Linked DNA regions of Homo sapiens. The protein of the gene in region 1 interacts with the protein of each later gene in a pairwise test. Each region holds a gene or a part of one and is shown on either strand. Other genes may lie near its edges.

Region 1 (2,598 bases):
CAGGTGGTGGAAATACTCATTGATTCTAAGGAAACAAAATTTTCTTCTGTGTTCTGGTGATGGTTAGTGAAAATAATTTAAACAAGATGTACAGAATAATCAAGATGGACTCATAACAAATAATAGTCAGTGACCACTACAGAGAAATAAGATTAGGGATGTGACAAACACAGTTCAGCATTTACCTTCTAAACTTCAACAGTAGTAAGGTAGGTAAATTCCCATTACAATGCTTTCTTAAAACCAACTTCCATCAATGTGTACTCCAGAAAAAAAAAAATCCATCTTTGAAAAAAAAATATTGCAAATTAAGTAACAAATAGATCCTGCTTTTTAAAAATGAAGACTTTTTAATTGAAAAATACAGAAAAAAATGGCAAAACTTATTAATTAATGGAAAACACGTTAAGCTGGAAGTAAATGCATGAGCTGCTTTACAGAAATGCATAATGTGAGTGATGAAAGGAACAAATATTCTTCCAATTTTCCAGATTTGACACTCATTTAAATGAAAGAGGCTATTCCCAAATGGTACACAAATTCAGAAGTCTTTATTTTGAAAAAAATTCTTCCAACAGTATTTCACAATGAACAAGAACTTAACCAAATTTATCTATCATACTAAAGTATTTCAGAAATGAATATTGAAAACAGCCTGTAAGTTTTCATCCAATATTTAAAACCACCTCCTGAACTAAAATTGGTCTTCAAAAATCATGGCGTATTAACATTTTCCAAACATGCCCTGCTGACTAGAAGGTCCTGTTATTCTTTCTTTTGAACTTCCCAGTAAGTTTCCTTGTTCCCTATTCCTAGGATTTAAAGTGCAAAGGTACTTTTTATGAGCTATTAGGACAAGTATTCTTCATTGAAAATAAACTTTTGCAGAAAACAAATCCTGTGCTTGACTAACAGCAAAGACATGTTAAGAAATTTCTGAGCTCCAAACCATGAGGAATCAGAATCACAACTTTCAGAGTAATAACTCACATTTTTTCTAAAGCATAGGAAGCTAATTTTGTATAATGAACAAATGTGGTTGTGCCAAAATAGGTTTTGCCACAGTTAATTTCCACTTTCTCTTCTTAAAAATAAGGTATAGTCTAAGCTAATGTAGATAAGGAAAGGCACGATACCAACAAACTGCAAAACAAAGTATAGCCCCAAGCCATGCACTTTTTAGAGTCATGAGTAGGGACAATGAAAAAATTAAGGTGCAAAATAGATGTGAACTTCCACAATCTTTCAATGGACTGTCTTAACAGTTTAATTTAAAAGCATAGGCTTTTTCATATATCTTCAGATAGTCAGAGAGATTTTTTTTCTTCTTTAAATGGAAGAATTTCTTAAATGGAAGCACAAGATCATACCTACACAGCTGGTGAGCCTCAAAATAGAATAATGTCTACTTTATTAATAAAGTTTCCAGTCAGGCAGAATCAAGAGTAATCTTCATATATGCATAAGGATATTATCATTATAACAATATTTTTAGTAGAAAAGTCTATAAACAAATGTTCTCCCAAAGGGACATCCATATAATGGAATCCTGGAGACATTAATGTTAGAGCTGGAAGGTGGCAATATGGAAAGACAACCAAGTTAAACAAGAACCAAGTCACAAACTTGAACATTTAAAATAAGAACAGGAAGAGGCATACAGAGAGAGAGCCATATATAAAATAAACGATAACATTTCTTAAAGACTACACAAGAATACAAGAAATTATATGCCTCTGGGGTATGAGAATAAAGTCACAGAGGGAGACACACTTTTTGACTTTATGCCCTTTGTGTATACTGCATAATTTTTAGAAATCATAAGCATATATTATAGCATACAAAAAACCTTTAAAGTCTTTAAAAAACCTGATTGTAACCAAAGCATTCTATGAAACATTGACTATGTAAGATTAGTTTACAATCCCTTGCTGCCTTTAGTTAATGATCATATAGTCAAAATTAGAAGGCTCCTTGGCGTTTGCTTCCTCTGTCTCTCCACTCAAGAATGAGGGAAGATGCTGAGAATTTAGAATTCAAATTTTACTCTCATTGCTTAAATTGTAACTTGGATAACATCTCAAGATTTCAGAGAACCGATTAAAAAATTAATCTATGGGCATTTTAATCACCATCTAAAATATTTTATCTAGGATCACTTATCTTTTTTTATAAAAGCTCAAATCACAACATTCTCTTTTCATCAGTCCCTACAGCCCTGTGTTGGACAAGCACAGATGTCAAAAATACACTTAAATATACGTTGAATTTTTATCCACTAGAATAAAATAAGCAGAATGATATGCATTCTTGGCGATAGTCTTCACTGGAAAATACCACTGTCAGCCCAAACTTACACAACTGACTTCAAAATCAGACTAAGATGTGGCATAAGAAGAGCTATTTCCTACCTTCACTATATATTCAGGATTTGCCAACTCCAAGGCCTTGAAAAACATGTGAATGTTTGAGACTAAGAAAAATTGGGAATGGTAAGCTAGTGGCCACCTTAAGAGTACATGCCCCATTTCAAAAAGATGGATTCAGAATGCAACGTTTTAAAACACTGTGCTGGTCACACAAAACAGAACTGCAGAC
Region 2 (7,036 bases), on another chromosome or scaffold:
AAAAAATGCACTCTAATCTTGATAAATAATGACTATATAAGATTAACTACATTCTTACAGGGTTTATGCAGAGGCATTCGGTATTTGTCGTAGTGAAAGGATCATATTTGTCTGCAATGACAAGTAGATCGGGCACAGGATACACTCTCAAAGCATAGTCATATGCCCAATACACTGGGCAGACATAAAGAGGTAGGGGAGTCAGATGTCCTTGGGATAAGATAGTCTTTACAAACTACAAAAGAGCACAAAACAAAGCAAACTTCAGTTCATTTGCAAAAGTGAAAATAGCTAAACAAATAATTTCAAATTAAATATTAATTACCAAAAGGAACCAGAAAATTTGAGAAACTAGGAAAGCTTTGACTCACAGAGCTTTGGGAGACACTAATTTAAAAGTGAAATAAACTATTCTGTATTTTAGGAAAAAAAATCTATGAGTTTTCATTTAATAACATATACATCATTATGCTGCCCAGGCTGGTCTCAAACTCCTGGCCTCAAGCAAGCCACCCAAAGTGCTGGGATTACAGGCATAAGCCACTGCACCTGGTCCATAAACTTTAAATATTATAAAATGAATAATAAAAATGCTCTGTAACATCTATTTCCGTACTTCTCAAATGGGGGTGTATGTAACCTGTGATTGACAACTATTGTCAGGGAACCTCGAAGCTACAAGATAAATACTGCACATTCTTGTGATATGGACATACTATATAAAATATGTAACCAATGGGATAAATAAGAACAGTTTATTAAAACAAATATACATATATTTTCAAGTATAATTTAAGAGTTTAAAAGGCAAAACACGAAGCTTGAAAGAAATTTCATGCTTATTCTCAGCTTTTCTCTGTCCTCTAAAGGACATACACTTAGGTAGAAAGCTGAGAAACACTGACTTCACTAACAAAAATTAACTTACTGACAAAAGTACGTTCAAACTATTTTGAACCATAAATAAATGTCCTAACCCAAGGACAAATTATTAAGTGGCTTAATAAAATTTTATATAATGCAACATGTAAGGCAGTTTAATAAAAAAGTTGTTTCACTTACGTGATTAGGAATAGCCAAATTGCTGCTAGGAAAACGGACGCAGTTTCTGCACATTTTATTTACTAAGTCTTCACGGAAGACAGTAATTTCCTGTGTACAGTACTGAATTCTGAAATGAAAACAGTAGTTGAATTTGACTTCTCAGAAAAAAATGATATTAATTTTAAAGGTAAAATCTCTTACAATACAACCCCATTCCCACATTCACTGTTCACCACACAAAACTTCAACCAGAGTCTGTCTATTCATCTATTCATTTAACAGCTATGTATTGAGCTCTTAATATATGCCTACCCCATTCTAGGGATTAGCGAACAGAACCAAAAGATCCCAGCCCTCATACAGTTTACATTCTAGTAGGGGGTGGGGCTGAGAAAATAAAAAGCGAACATAATCATATAGTATGTTTTAAGATAATTAAGCATAAGAGAAAAAGAAAAAGACAGGCTAAGAGGGACAGCATATGTGGTAAGAGAGAGCCTAGAAGGCGGGCATATTAATAGGATGATCAGAACAGGCCGGGCTCATAATTTAGTGTGACTTGAGCACAGGCTTGAAGCGGAAGAGGGACTTAGTCAAGCAGATACCCAGAGGAAGCGCACTGCAGGCAAAGGGAACAGATGGAGCCCAGGCCCTCAGACTGGAGCTCGCCTGGCATCCTTGAGGAACAGAAGGGAGGCTAGTGTGGCTGGAGTAAATGGGGAGGAGAGGAAATCAGAGAGGTAACGGAGCCAGATAACACAGGGCCTTGATTACCACTGCAAGGATACGGCTGTCACTAAATCACGAGGGGTCCCTTTTTCCAATGAGGGTCCCTTTTTCCAGGATCGGGAAGGTGGATGGGATATGCCTTATGCTTTACAGGATCACTTTCACACTGCGTTAAGAATAGAATACGGAGAGGAGAATGGCATGAACCCGGGAGGCGGAGCTTGCAGTGAGCCGAGATCGCGCCACTGCACTCCAGCCTGGGCAACAGAGCGAGACTCCGTCTCAAAAAAAAAAAAAAAAAAAAAAAAAAAAAAAAAAAAAAAAAAAAAAAAGAATAGAATACGGAGGGGAAGGAGTAAAAGCTGGAGACCAATTAGGAGGCTATTGTAATAATCCAGGCCGAGAAGATGGCAGAGCAGGGCTCCTCAACCTCCAGGCCATGGACTGGTACCAGTCCATGGTCTGTTAGGAACTGGACCACACAGCAGGAGGTGAGCAGCAGGCTGCAAGCAAGCAAAGCTTCATCTGTATTTACAGCCACTCCCCATCGGTTGTATTACATCCTGACCTCTGCCTCCTGTCAGATCAGCAGGGGCATTAGATTCTCACAGGAGCACGAATCCTGTTGTGAACTGTACACGTGAGTGATCTAGGCTGCACACTCGTTATAAGAATCTAATGTCTGATGATCTGTCACTGTCTCCCATCATCCCCAGATGGGACCGTCTGGTTTCAGGAAAACAAGCTTAGGGCTCCTACTGATTCTATATTATGGTAAGTTGTATAATTGTTTTATTATATATTATAATGTAATAATAATAGAAATAAAGTGCACAATAAGTGTAATACGCTTGAATCATCCCAAAATCACCCCCACCCCCCCTGGCGTCTGTCTCCCATAAGATCAGTCCCTGGTGCCAAAAAGGTTGGGGACCACTGTGGTAGAGGGTTGTGGAGGTAGAGGTATAGAGAGAGAGCAGATTCTGGATATAATTTGAAGTTAATGGGACTTCCTGAAAAAACATGTGAGAGAAACCCCAAAGTGTTTGGCCTGAACAACTGGAATAATCATTGTTCAGACCATGAAGGTGTCATGAACTAACATGGAGAAGTCTACAGAAGAGGTTAGGGACACTCGTGGGGAGGAAGATCAGGAGTTCACTTAGGTTGGGATGGTGATAAGTAGGCAACTGGATACCTGAGTCTGGAGTTTGGAAGGTAGGTTGAAGTGGAAATATAAATGTGGAAGGTGTCAATACACAGATGATACTTAAAGCCAGAGGACACTGGAGAAGGCCAGCAAAGGAGTGAATGTAGGCAGAAAAGAGGCGAACCAAGGCTGCCTCTGATGGTATTCCCACAGGAAGAACTTATGATTACAATGAGCAATACGAACAGTAAATAAGTAATCTTTGTATTCTTCCTTTGTAACCTTTCTTAAAGGATATGTAGTAATAATATCTATTTTTAAACTGCTATCCATTATTCAAGAGTCTGAATTGACTACCAATAAATTATTTAAATATAGTTAAACTATTTTCAAAGTTTTGAGAAACCTAAAACAAAAATAAATTTTCTTCTTATATTTATTCCATAACAGTCGAAATTCAGAGACACATTTTAGGAATCAAGTTAGTTTTTTTGTTTTTTGTTTTTTTTGTTTTTTTGTTTTTTGTTTTTTTGAGACAGGGTCTTGCTCTGTCGCCCAGGCTGCAGGCTGGAATGCAGTAGTGCATTCTCAGCTCACAGCAACCTCTCCACCTACCAGGCTCAAGTGATCCTCCCATCTCAGCCTCTTCATAGAACCACAGGCGCGTGCCACCAAGCCCAGCTAATTTTTGTACTTTTTGTAGAGATGGGTTTCACTGTGTTGCCAAAGCTGGTCTCGGAACTCCAAGCAACCTGCCTGCCTCGGCCTCCCAAAGTGCTGAGATTACAGACATGAGCCACCACACCTGGCTAATTTTTAAATGAAAGGAAAAATGTATAACACAAAATACTAATTCTTACCTGCAAGGATTAGTAGTAAAAACTGAAAATGGTACCCTTTGTCTGAATTCATTAGTGATGCTTTCAGCAAGTGGTGGCCTATAAAAACAATTTATGTGATATAGTTTATCTTTTTAAGTTTTACAAAATTTTCTACACTGTTGCAAAAATCTGAACAAAACTTACCTTGGTAAGATGGAACCAAATCCAGGATCCTCTGGACCAGGTACAAACACAAAACGACTACTGTAGCAAAATTCAACACAATTCATTTAAAAATATTATTGTAACACTATCCAATAGCTTAAAAGCAAGTTATTCCCTTTGTTTTCTCTTTAAAATTAAAAAACATTTAAATTTCATGCATTATAATAAATGAACTATTAAGTCTCCAGACCAACACTGTCTAGTAATGTCATGATAGAAAAGTTCTATATCTGCACTGCCCAATTGAACACTTGAATTGTGGCTAGCATAGCTGATGGACTGAATTTTATATTTAAATTTAATTAAACTTAGATTTAAAGAGACATGTGGCCAGTGACTATCATATCGGAGAGTGAAGCTCTAGACTCTTAAGAGTAATGCCACGAAGAAATTCCAAGTATGGCTGAAATTACCTCTATCCCTTTCAATACTTTTCATTATAAACCTCTAGTACAATGTGAGGATAACTTTATCTCTTAGTTCTTTTAATTTTCTCAACTTTATCTTTCTTCCTTAGTTTTGTAATAATTGCTGATATAACAAAATTCATTTTTTGTTTTTTTTTTAAGTAAAACGGTGAAAAAATATATAGTGCTAGAGATCATTACCTTTGGTGAATATCTGGGTATTCACATATTATATCTGCCAAAGTTTTTAGGGAATCTAAAATTTTAAAAAGGTATTGAATTAAATTTGCATATAATGCCATAAAATTATATTTGATTAGATACAATCCTGTATATTCTTAATTAAAATATTATGGATAATTTCTTATTACTTTAGTTTATATGACTATAGAAACACTTCTTATTAAATAGATCGTTAATACCTTTCAAAGCTTGAACTTGATTTTTTCCATATGGTGCAGATGAAAAATTACCACACAGAATAAAGCAGGTTGGAGGTGCTGGTGAATAACCTAAACAATAAAAGAGTAAATGAACAATACTTTTCTAGTCTACAAATCAAGTTAAAAACCCTTTAACCATGACTTTCTAATAATAAAAATTTATTTTAATTAAAATAACATTTTAATAACTTATTAAAATAATACTAATAACAGTAGCCATTCATTGAGCACTTACTATAGGCCAGGCCTGCATTGGCTTAATTACTCCTCAGAACATCCATAAAATCTGAGACTTAGGTTAAGTAACCTGCCCAGGGTAATAGGCTTGCACTTAAACCCAGTTTGTTTTTGTTTTTGTTTAGAGATGGGGTCTCACTATGTTGTCCAGCTGGTCTTGAACTTCAGGACTAATTCTTACTTATCATGACTATAAACACACACACACACACACACACACACACACACAGGTTTTTTTCTTAATGTAAAAATTTAAGTCTTTAAAATGAAATCTAATTTAAATTATCTCATTGCTAACTCTGTTTTTTTTTAAATAGAATACTCAAAAAGATAAATAGAATACTCAAAAAGTTTTAAAACATGAACCCTTAAAAGAGTTCAAGAAAGAAGAAAAAAAATAAGACCTACCAGCAAACATTATGCGAAGTTTTTCCAATACTTCCACCTGGTCCAACCAAACATCAGATAAAAACACAAACATAGCATCTTTATTCTCCTCTTCTAGCTGTTTTAGTTTTGCAGAAGTCTTCACAGATGTATTAGAAGGACCTCCAAAAAAATTAATATTTCCATAGTATGCCCTAGATAATTATAACATAATTATCTTCTATATACCACTAGAGATATTTTTCTAATAGTTGTATACATTTAGCTTCTTTGTATCTAATGAAGTTATTTTCCAGTGTAAAAAGGTACTCTTTGTAACACTTTAAAAGTACAAAGGTTATCTAAATATTCTAAAACAAGATAAGCAATATGGAAGCAGTAAATAAAATAATAGGCTATATCTGTGTCTTAAAACTGACTAAACGGCCGGGCACGGTGGCTCACGCCTGTAATCCCAGTACTTTGGGAGGCCGAGGCGGGCGGATCACGAGGTCAGGAGATCGAGACCATCCTGGCTAACACAGTGAAACCCCATCTCTACTAACAATACAAAAAATTAGCCGGGCGACGTGGCGGGCGCCTGTAGTCCCAGCTACTCTGGAGGATGAGACAGGAGAATGGCGTGAACCCCGGGGGGCGGAGCCTGCAGTGAGCCGAGATTGCGCCACTGCACTCCAACCTGGGCGACAGTGAGACTCTTGTCTCAAAAAAAAAAAAAAAAAACTGACTAAAGCAAACATTAAAATAATAATTTCCTATGTCACTGAAAGTAGAAGAAATGAGTACACCATTTGAACAATATCTCATAGAAACCTCAAAATATGTGCTAACCATCTGCCCAAGTAATTCTACTTCTGGAATGGCTAATCCTAAGGAATTAAAGATATATACAAAGACTAGCCTATATCCAAGAACTGTGAAAAAATTATTCAACGGTTCCTTCAAAGCTTGGTTTTATTCAATGCTCACCAAGCAAGGGTCAGTAGGAAAGTGGGTAATCTACACACTCCCAGCCTCCACCACTCTTGCCCACTCTACACTGACATCCTGCAGTTCCCAGCTTAAATGCAAATACCCCATAGGCCTCCTCTGAGGATCCCAAAAGAGGTTAGATTTTCCCATTATACACTCTCATAGGAACCTGTACTTCTCCTTTGCAGATCTTATCAAATTTGTAATCAGGCCAGGGTGGCTCACACCTATAATCCCAGCACTTTGGGAGGCCGAGGTGGGGGGATTGCTTGAGGTCAGGAGTTCAAAACCAGCCTGACCAACATGGTGAAATCCACCCCATCTCTATTAAAAATGTGAAAATTAGCCGGGCATGGCAGCAGGCACCTATAATTCCAGCTACTCGGGAGGCTGAGGCAGGAGAATCGCTTGAACCTAGGAGATGGAGGTTGTAGTAAGCCGAGATCATGCCACTGCACTCCAGCTTGGGCAACAAAGCAAGATTTTGCCTCAAAAAAAAAAAAAAAAATTGTAGTCAGCCAATTGTAATTGGGCGATTGTTTCATGTCTGTCTCCCCACCTAGTGGCAATACAGTATGTGCTCAAAACATATTTCCTGAATGTCACGAATCATGCTATAAA
Region 3 (7,716 bases), on another chromosome or scaffold:
ACTTAGAAGAAACCTGGTCTAGAGAAGACTCGAGTTCAAGTTCCAGCTCTGACGATTGTTAACAGGGAGACCTTGGGCAAAGGTGCTGGTCACGGAGGCAGCTGTACAACCAGGCTCAGTGGTATCCACCCTCCAAGCAAGGGGAACTGAGGAAAAATGCCTGAGAAACGTGCAGCGTCTGTTCAATCTCTGAACCACGTTAATACAACCATCTTCAGGGATGCAGGAAGGCCCTGAAGCCCACTCACTCTGAGTTAATGTAGGCATGAGGTGGAGGCTGTGGAAAGGACTCCAGAGTCTGCAAGTCACCAAGCAGCCTCTGTGGCTCTGTCACAGCACCACAGCTGAAGGGCCTCATGCTAAGGGGATCAGCCACAGTCACTCTCAGGCAGTCCTCCTGAATTAAGAGCCAGGGAGATCATTCCACCTCACTCTACTTAATTACCAAATGTCACGACGGAGTATAAGGACTAGCATGTAGGGTTTTTCCTGGTAATCAAAGACAAAATTTCTAAAAGCATTATTACCACTGGCAGATCTGACTTTTTATTTATTTTTATTTATTTGAGACTGAGTCTTGCTCTACCACCCAGGCTGGAGTGCAGTGTGGCGTGACCTTTGCTCACTGCAACCTCCACCTCCCAGGTTCAAGGGATTCTCCTGCCTCAGCCTCCTGAGTAGCTGGGATTACGGACGCCCACCACCACAACCAGCTAATTTTTATTTTTATTTTTTTTATAAGATGGAGTTTTGCTCTTTTTGCCCAGGCTGGAGTGCAGTGGCGCGATCTCGGCTCACTGCAACCTCCGCCTCCTGGGTTCAAGTGATTCTCCTGCCTCAGCCTCCCTAGTAGCTGGGATTACAGGCACACGCCACCACACCCAGCTAATTTTGTATTTTTAGTAGAGATGGGGTTTCACCATGTTGGCCAGGCTAGTCTCGAACTCCTGACTCCAAGTGATCCGTCCGCCTCAGCCTCCTAAAGTGCTGAGATTACAGGCATGAGCCACTGTGCCCCCAACAGATCTGACTTTTTAGAAACGTTTTAACTTCAAAATAATTATAGATTCAAAGTTGCGAAAAGATTTACAAGGGTCCCATGCACCCTTCCAAGCCACCCCTTACCTGGCTGTCTTTCCTCATTGGGCAGGTGAGAGATGGTGGCTCTCTGTCCTGAGGGCCAACACTCCAGGAACCCTTACCTCTACATGCTCAGTCCTCACCGACAAGGACTTCCGGGTGACAAGGCCAGCACCACGCACAGCTGCTGCTAAGCTCCTCACGTTCATTCACTGAACAAATATTTACTGGGCCCCGATCATGTGCCAGCAACTGTTTTTTTCACAAAACATTCTCTCCACGGACCTTACTAACTCACAGTAAAATATTAAGTATGATAAATGCATTAAGCAGGACACTAGGAGGATTCAGCGCTGTGGGAAAATTAAGCGAGGAAGGGAACTGGGTGGCAAGGCAGGCAGGCAGTCGCCAGGCTAGGGGGTTAAGGAACCAGGCATTCCAGGAAGATCCAAGGACAGAGCATGTGGCTCTGTTCAGAACTAGCAAGGAGGCTGATATGGCAGGTGCAGAGTGAGTCAGGGGCCAGTCTGAGGGTGGGTGGACTCAGACGCTGCAGGCTCATTAACACCCTCGCCAGGGGTGTCCCTCAGAGTCCACACAGCCAGCAACCAGAGCGGGCCCCTACAGCTCTCTGCTGGGCCAGACGCCAGCTGGAGCCACCCCGAGTCCTACAGCACCGACACAAGTGAAAGGGGAACTCAACCGAAACTTCCCCAAAGCCCTTAGATCCAGGCTTCTAATTTCATCTCTTGTTTGACAGACTACTCATTCCTGAAACTCAGCTGACATTTTTTTAAAAAGAGAAGCAAATAAACGAACATAAAATCTCAGAAGCTTTGAGTAAACTTTTGCCTTCAGGTAACCATGACAATAGTGGGAGCAATGTAACTGTTTTTGTCATTAGAATAGGTTTTTCTAAACAGGCAAATAAGGGCAGACGTGTCTAACCACCATCAAATCTTCCCAACCAAGCCTAAGCCGGAAAACAAAAATAAAGCTGAAATTTTTGCTTCCTTTTCCTGTATGACACAACTGAATGAATTTGAGAAATCATGGCTTCGGCACACGAAAAAGAGAGTCTTTAATCCAGACACTTAACACCAACAAGTTAGAACCTGAACGGACGAGTTCCTAATACTCTCCTTAAGAGTTCAATATAAAGCATGGCTTCAAATGTTTTTATAAAGCGGAGAAAACAGGTTTTTTCTAACAAACCAAATGCTTTTTGGAATTTACAACGTCGGAAAGATTAATTTACGATGCGTTACAGAACAATTTTCAATTCCCCGAGCTATAAACACAACGACCCAGGGACTAAATTATCTGCCTCCCTAAGACCAGCGATGGCCCAGCTTCTCCAGTCCCCCCGCAGGAGAGGAGACCCCGGGGGGTTGGGGGCGGCCGCGGGGACCTGGGGGAGCGGAGGGGGCGTCCGGGCCCGAAGAGACCCGCGGAGAGCGCCGCCCCAGCCCCCACCACGGTGCTCAGACCCCCGGCCCGGCCCGGCCCGGCTCCCGCAGGCCCCGGCGCCGACCTTCCCGCGCCCCCGCCCCGGCCCAGGCCGCGGCGTCGCAGCAGCTCCGGCCCCGAGCGCCCGCGCAGCCCCGGCCCGGGGGTCGCCGCCATTTCCGGCTCTGGAGTGCCGCCCCCGCCCCCCACCCGCGCCCGCCCGCCCGCCTGCCCGGGCCTGACGTGGGCCGATCCGCCCGCCCGACCCGCAGCGAGCTCACCTGCCCGTCCGCCCGCCCGCCCGCCCTCCCGCCGGCTCCGCGGCTCCGCTCCCCGATTCGCGGCGCTGCTGGGCAGCGGCCGACGCACTCCTCAGCCTGGAGACCCCGGGCGGCGGCGGCGGCGGCGGCAGAGGGCGCGGGTGCGGCACCGGCAGCGGCAGCGGCAGCGGCAGCGGAGACGAGCACGCTCACGCACGCACCCGCACCGGCGCGCGCGCTCCCGGAAGGACGTGGGCTCCGGCGTGTCGGAGCCGCGGGTGGGACCGGCTGCGCATGCGCTCAGAGAGCCGAGCGGAGGCTCCGTCCATGAAGGGGCGGAGTCCCGAGTGACAGCCCGGGGCCGAGGCGCCCTGTGGAGGCTCCGCCCATGAGTGGGCGGGGACGAAGCGCGGGGGCGGAGCCAGTCCTCCCAGTCTTCAGGTGGCCGCAGGTGGGTCCCGGGTGGACACGCCATGTGCTGCGGGGAACCGCGCAGAAAGAGAAGCGCAGGGCTTGCTGGTCTTGCAGGTGAGTTTACTCAGCGCTTTAAGTAAGACTGAGAAAACGTAATCGTTCTCATCAAAGAACTGAACAGGGAGCTGGTGGGAGACGGCTGCGGACCGTCGCCCCCGCCCCCACCCGGAGCCACCGTCCTGGGACTGACATTTGCTCAACCCTGGAGCGCCGAGATGGGACGTCCTTCCTTCCTTCCTGTCCAACCACTGAAATGCCGTCGCCAGCGCCCTCCCACCCTCCCGGAATCATCTCCAAACAGCAGCGTGGAGAGGCAGGACCACGAACGTCCACTCCACCTCCCTCTGCCCTTGCCCATCCCGTCGGCCACCCTTCCCTGTCCCTGTAACTGCAGGCGCTCCGCCACTCACTGACGGCCTGCCCCGCGTAGGCTGCCTGGGCCACTTCCCATCCTAGAAGCTCCCAGACCTCTGCGGCCGGTGCTCCTGCCTCCTCGCTTCCACCCTTGCCCGTTTACCTGAGTTCAGTGCGGTCATCTTTTTAAAACAAACCCAGTAGCATCCAAGGCTTCCCGTGACACACTGCGTGAAACCCAAATTCTCTCTCAACACGCTCTGGCCTCCTTCCTCTGCCCTCATAACTCACTGCCATAATGCCGGTCTTGAATTGCCAAGCTTGTTCCAGTCTCACAGCCTGGAAGTGTCAGAGCTTGGGAAGCCTCCTAGCAGTCATTAAGCTGCGCAACATCAAGCAGGCAGCAAGAAAAGGCCTATGGAACCCAAGAAGCAGAAAGGCCAGGTTCATATCTACAACTATAGATTCCAAGAGAATGAAATATTTCAGGCCAGAATTGGAGGGATGAGAGAATGAAATGGGCCTGGTACCGATCTCAGATTGAAGCTATATTCCACTTGTGCTGGGAGCTGCAAGAATGAATGAACCAGCCTTAAGTGAGTCCCTCTGAGACCTAGCAGTTCCACTTTAGGGACATTCTTCCAAAGAAAATATTCCTAAATACAGAAAAAGGTATATGCACTGAAATATTCATGAAGGCACTATTTTTAATAGCGAGAATGGAAACCTGCCCAACTGCACAAGTGAGCACTCAAATGGAATAATATAGTTACTGAAATGTATACAACGGGACCCATGGCTCACGCCTGGAATCTCAGCACTTTGGTAGACCAAGGCAGGAAGATCACTGGAGCCCAGGAGTTTGAGACCTGCCTGGACAACATAGTGAGACCACCATCTCTATAAAAAAAAATTTTTTTAATTGGCCCGGCCACAGTGGCATGCATGCCCCTGTAGTCCCAGCTACTCAGGAGGCTGGATCGGGTGGGAAGTCAAGGCTGTAGTGAGCCATGATTGTGCCACTGCATTCCTGCCTGGGTGACAGAGCAAGACCCCATCTCTTATTTAAAAAGAAGAAAAAAAGAAAGATAATGTGTAGAAAGGCTACACAGGAGCAAAGAACTCCTGAAACTAAAATGAGCACGATGCATGATATGTAAAAAGTATATTATCACACATATATCTATCCATGAACATTCCAGCCTGCTTGGAGAAAATAAGACAGGAAGGTACGCCCGGGCACAGTGGCTCACACCTGTAATCCCAGCACTTTGGGAGGCCGGGGTGGGCGGATCACCTGAGGTCAGGCGTTCAAGACCAGCCTGGCCAACATGGCAAAACCCTGTCTCTACTAAAAATACAAAAATTAGCTGGGCGTGGTGGCATGCCCCTGTAAATCCCATCTGCTCGCGAGGCTGAGGCAGGAGCATCGCTTGAGCCCAGGAGGTGGAGGTTGCAGTGAGCTGAGATTGCACCACTGCACTCCAGCCTGAGCGACAGAGTGAGACCCTGTCTCAAAAAAAAAAAAGAAGACAGGAAAGTTGACAGTGGCTACAGTTGGGAAGAGTCTGATGTTTACCTCTGATACATCAGGCCCTGTGCTAAGTGCTTTATAAGGTTAAGCCTTTCAATATGATGAGGCAGATACCATTACCCTCACTCTGAGAAGAGGGGACTGAGCCTTCAGGCATTGCTGCCCGCTCCTCAGGTCCACTTACTCCACTTGCTCCATCCTCGAAGCTCTCCAAGCGCTTCACCTCGTCAAACACAAGCCAGTGACTTAGGGGAATCTGTCTTCCCCAACAAACGGGTTGCAAAGTCCTTGAGCACTGGGTCCACATCAGATTCACCCTTGTACCCCACAAAACCTAGCAGACTCTTACCCGCAGGGCAGTTACAGTATCTGTTCAATAAATGAAGAACACATGAACTCATTCCAAAATAAATTAGTGTAAATCTTGACTGCAGGCGGCAATAGTGCATTTCACCCTTTATTGGTACCAGCTCCCTGCTGTATTGGGGCTTATGTACCATACAATTCGAGGTCACCTAACTTTCCCTGCTCTTACATCTGGGGTGAGCCCAGCTACCTCTGACCTCCAAAGGAAGACTGGTGCTCCCACTAGTTTTCCAGTGGGAACTCCAAAGACTAGGAATGGATACATGCAAAGCGCCAGACCAGGGGCAGAGTGGAGGTTCCCCCTCAAGGGTCTTTTCCTTTTTCTTTTTCTTTTTTTTTTTTTTTTTTGAGACAGAGTCTCGCTTTATCGCCCAGGCCGGAGTGCAATGGCGTGATCTCGGCTAACTGCAACCTCCACCTCCCGGGTTCAAATGATTCTCCTACCTCAGCCTCCTGAGCAGCTGGGATTACAGGTGTGAACCACCACACTCGGCTAATTATTTCACTTTTTTGTAGAGTCAGGGCCTGGCTACGATGCTCAAGCTGGTGTCAAACTCCCAGGCTCAAGTGATCCTCCCATCTTGGCCTTCCAAAGTCCTGAGCTTACAGACATGAGCCACCACACCCAGCCTACTGTTTTTAGTTGAGATGGAATCCCGGTATGCTGCCCAGGCTGGTCCTGAACTCCTGGGCTCAGGTGATCTGCCTCACCCTCCAGAATGGCGGGGACTACAGGTGTGCTCAGCAGCAGCTCAGTGCTTGCAGGGGCAGCTGGCGAAGCCTCTGGAGCTCCCGGCCCAACCTGGAGCCTGGTGAGCTCCTCCTCCGCCTCCTGGGGCTCAGTTTCAACTCCTCTTCCCAAGACGCTGGGTCTGACCTCACAGGTTGGCCATATACCATTCTCCCCTCACAGCTGGCTCCCCTTGTCCCAGCATTGAGGACCTGCCCTTTGTCTTTAGCACTGTCCCCTGCCTGCCTCTCCCAAGGGTGCGGACTCATTAGGGCAGGTACCGTGTGCCAGTTCATTTACCACTCTTATCATGGTCCCGAACGATACATCACACAAGCCGAGGCGGACTTTCCCCCAAAGGAATGCTTTATTGACAAATTACCCATTATTATAATAACTTTAAGGAAAAGATACATCGGTCAACACCCGCACAACCTGCCTTCTCACCACACCCCACAGGCCGATTTTAACCCTGGACGAAGGGCACCGAGCGCTGGGCTTCCCTGGCCCCTGCATCTCTGTCGTGTGTGGAGTGCCATCCCCAAGGGTGTCTGAACTGTCCGGGGACACGGCTGTCAGAGGACACTTGCTCTACCGAACAGGACACCTTGAGCTGAGCAGCCCTTCCCCTCCCGGGAGTGGCAGAGCCGGGCACACCACAGGCAGGCCCTCAGTGTCCTGCCAAGAGCCACTAAGGCACAGAGCTCCCCCTGCAGACCACGCCATCTGACATGCAGGGCCCCGGTGTGCGAGAGAGGCTGCTGGGGTGCGACTATTTAGTAACAGGAAGAGATCTTTGTAGCTCCTGAGAAAAAGACTGTAACGGCAATCCTGGCTGATGCCCACGCCCCACCCTCCACCTGACCTGTGGGGTCGTTTCATCCCAAGTACAGCAAGCAGGAGGGTTGGAGTCACTGACGAATGTGAGCCGGGCCAGGCCCATGCAAAGGCAGCACTGAGAAGGGGGGCACAGTTCTTTTAAAGGGTGCTAAAGACAGGGTTTTCCTTCTCTTGGCCCCTCCCATTCCCAGAGGCTCAAGAGCCCTTTAGGGCAGGGCATAGGAGCCAGCGGGAGCTGCCACGGTTGAGAAGAGAAGCAGGTTTTGTACACTGGGATGGAGTGTGCGTGACATAAAACACCTCAACTGGAAGAGGCTGCCACGCAGGCCAGGTGTAAAATTCCACACAATGCTCACAACCATTAAGGAACCCTCATCTATATACATATAAAAATTAGAAAGAAATAAAGCATAAGGCAATGTAAGGCTTGTATTTCAGCTTGAGTCCAAAGAAATAATATTCTATGAGGCTAAAGCTGCTTTGCCTAATTTAAACTTTTTGAAAAGTCCACTGCATTTAAAAAATAATGAATTTGCTTCCGTTAAAGCTAGATTCGCGTAACAATCAGGCAGCTGCTGAGGGTCAGTTTCCTTTCTGGGGGTCTCAGAAAATGGACAGTTTTCTCGTTC

The links. Proteins that work in one complex are often made in the same cells at the same time.
Region 2: the proteins of AGFG1 (region 1) and POLE2 interact in binary tests that used the Homo sapiens proteins (3 or more experiments, as listed by UniProt).
Region 3: the proteins of AGFG1 (region 1) and DNAJC5 come close enough for resonance energy transfer, tested with the Homo sapiens proteins (one study listed by BioGRID).

Annotation. Positions count from the first base shown.
Region 1 is NC_000002.12:227,559,149-227,561,746, reverse strand, and holds the end of AGFG1 (arf-GAP domain and FG repeat-containing protein 1), read right to left. Parts: 3' UTR 530-2,598; downstream 1-529. UniProt on the Homo sapiens protein: Required for vesicle docking or fusion during acrosome biogenesis. May play a role in RNA trafficking or localization.
Region 2 is NC_000014.9:49,650,207-49,657,242, forward strand, and holds part of POLE2 (DNA polymerase epsilon subunit 2), read right to left. Parts: intron 5,638-7,036; coding exon 5,465-5,637; intron 4,889-5,464; coding exon 4,799-4,888; intron 4,633-4,798; coding exon 4,578-4,632; intron 4,009-4,577; coding exon 3,949-4,008; intron 3,862-3,948; coding exon 3,784-3,861; intron 1,172-3,783; coding exon 1,063-1,171; intron 236-1,062; coding exon 59-235; coding exon of another isoform or gene 47-58; exon of another isoform or gene 1-46. UniProt on the Homo sapiens protein: Accessory component of the DNA polymerase epsilon complex. Participates in DNA repair and in chromosomal DNA replication.
Region 3 is NC_000020.11:63,890,418-63,898,133, reverse strand, and holds the start of DNAJC5 (dnaJ homolog subfamily C member 5), read right to left. Parts: upstream 3,009-7,716; 5' UTR 2,811-3,008; exon of another isoform or gene 1,126-2,810; intron 1-1,125. UniProt on the Homo sapiens protein: Acts as a general chaperone in regulated exocytosis. Acts as a co-chaperone for the SNARE protein SNAP-25. Involved in the calcium-mediated control of a late stage of exocytosis. May have an important role in presynaptic function.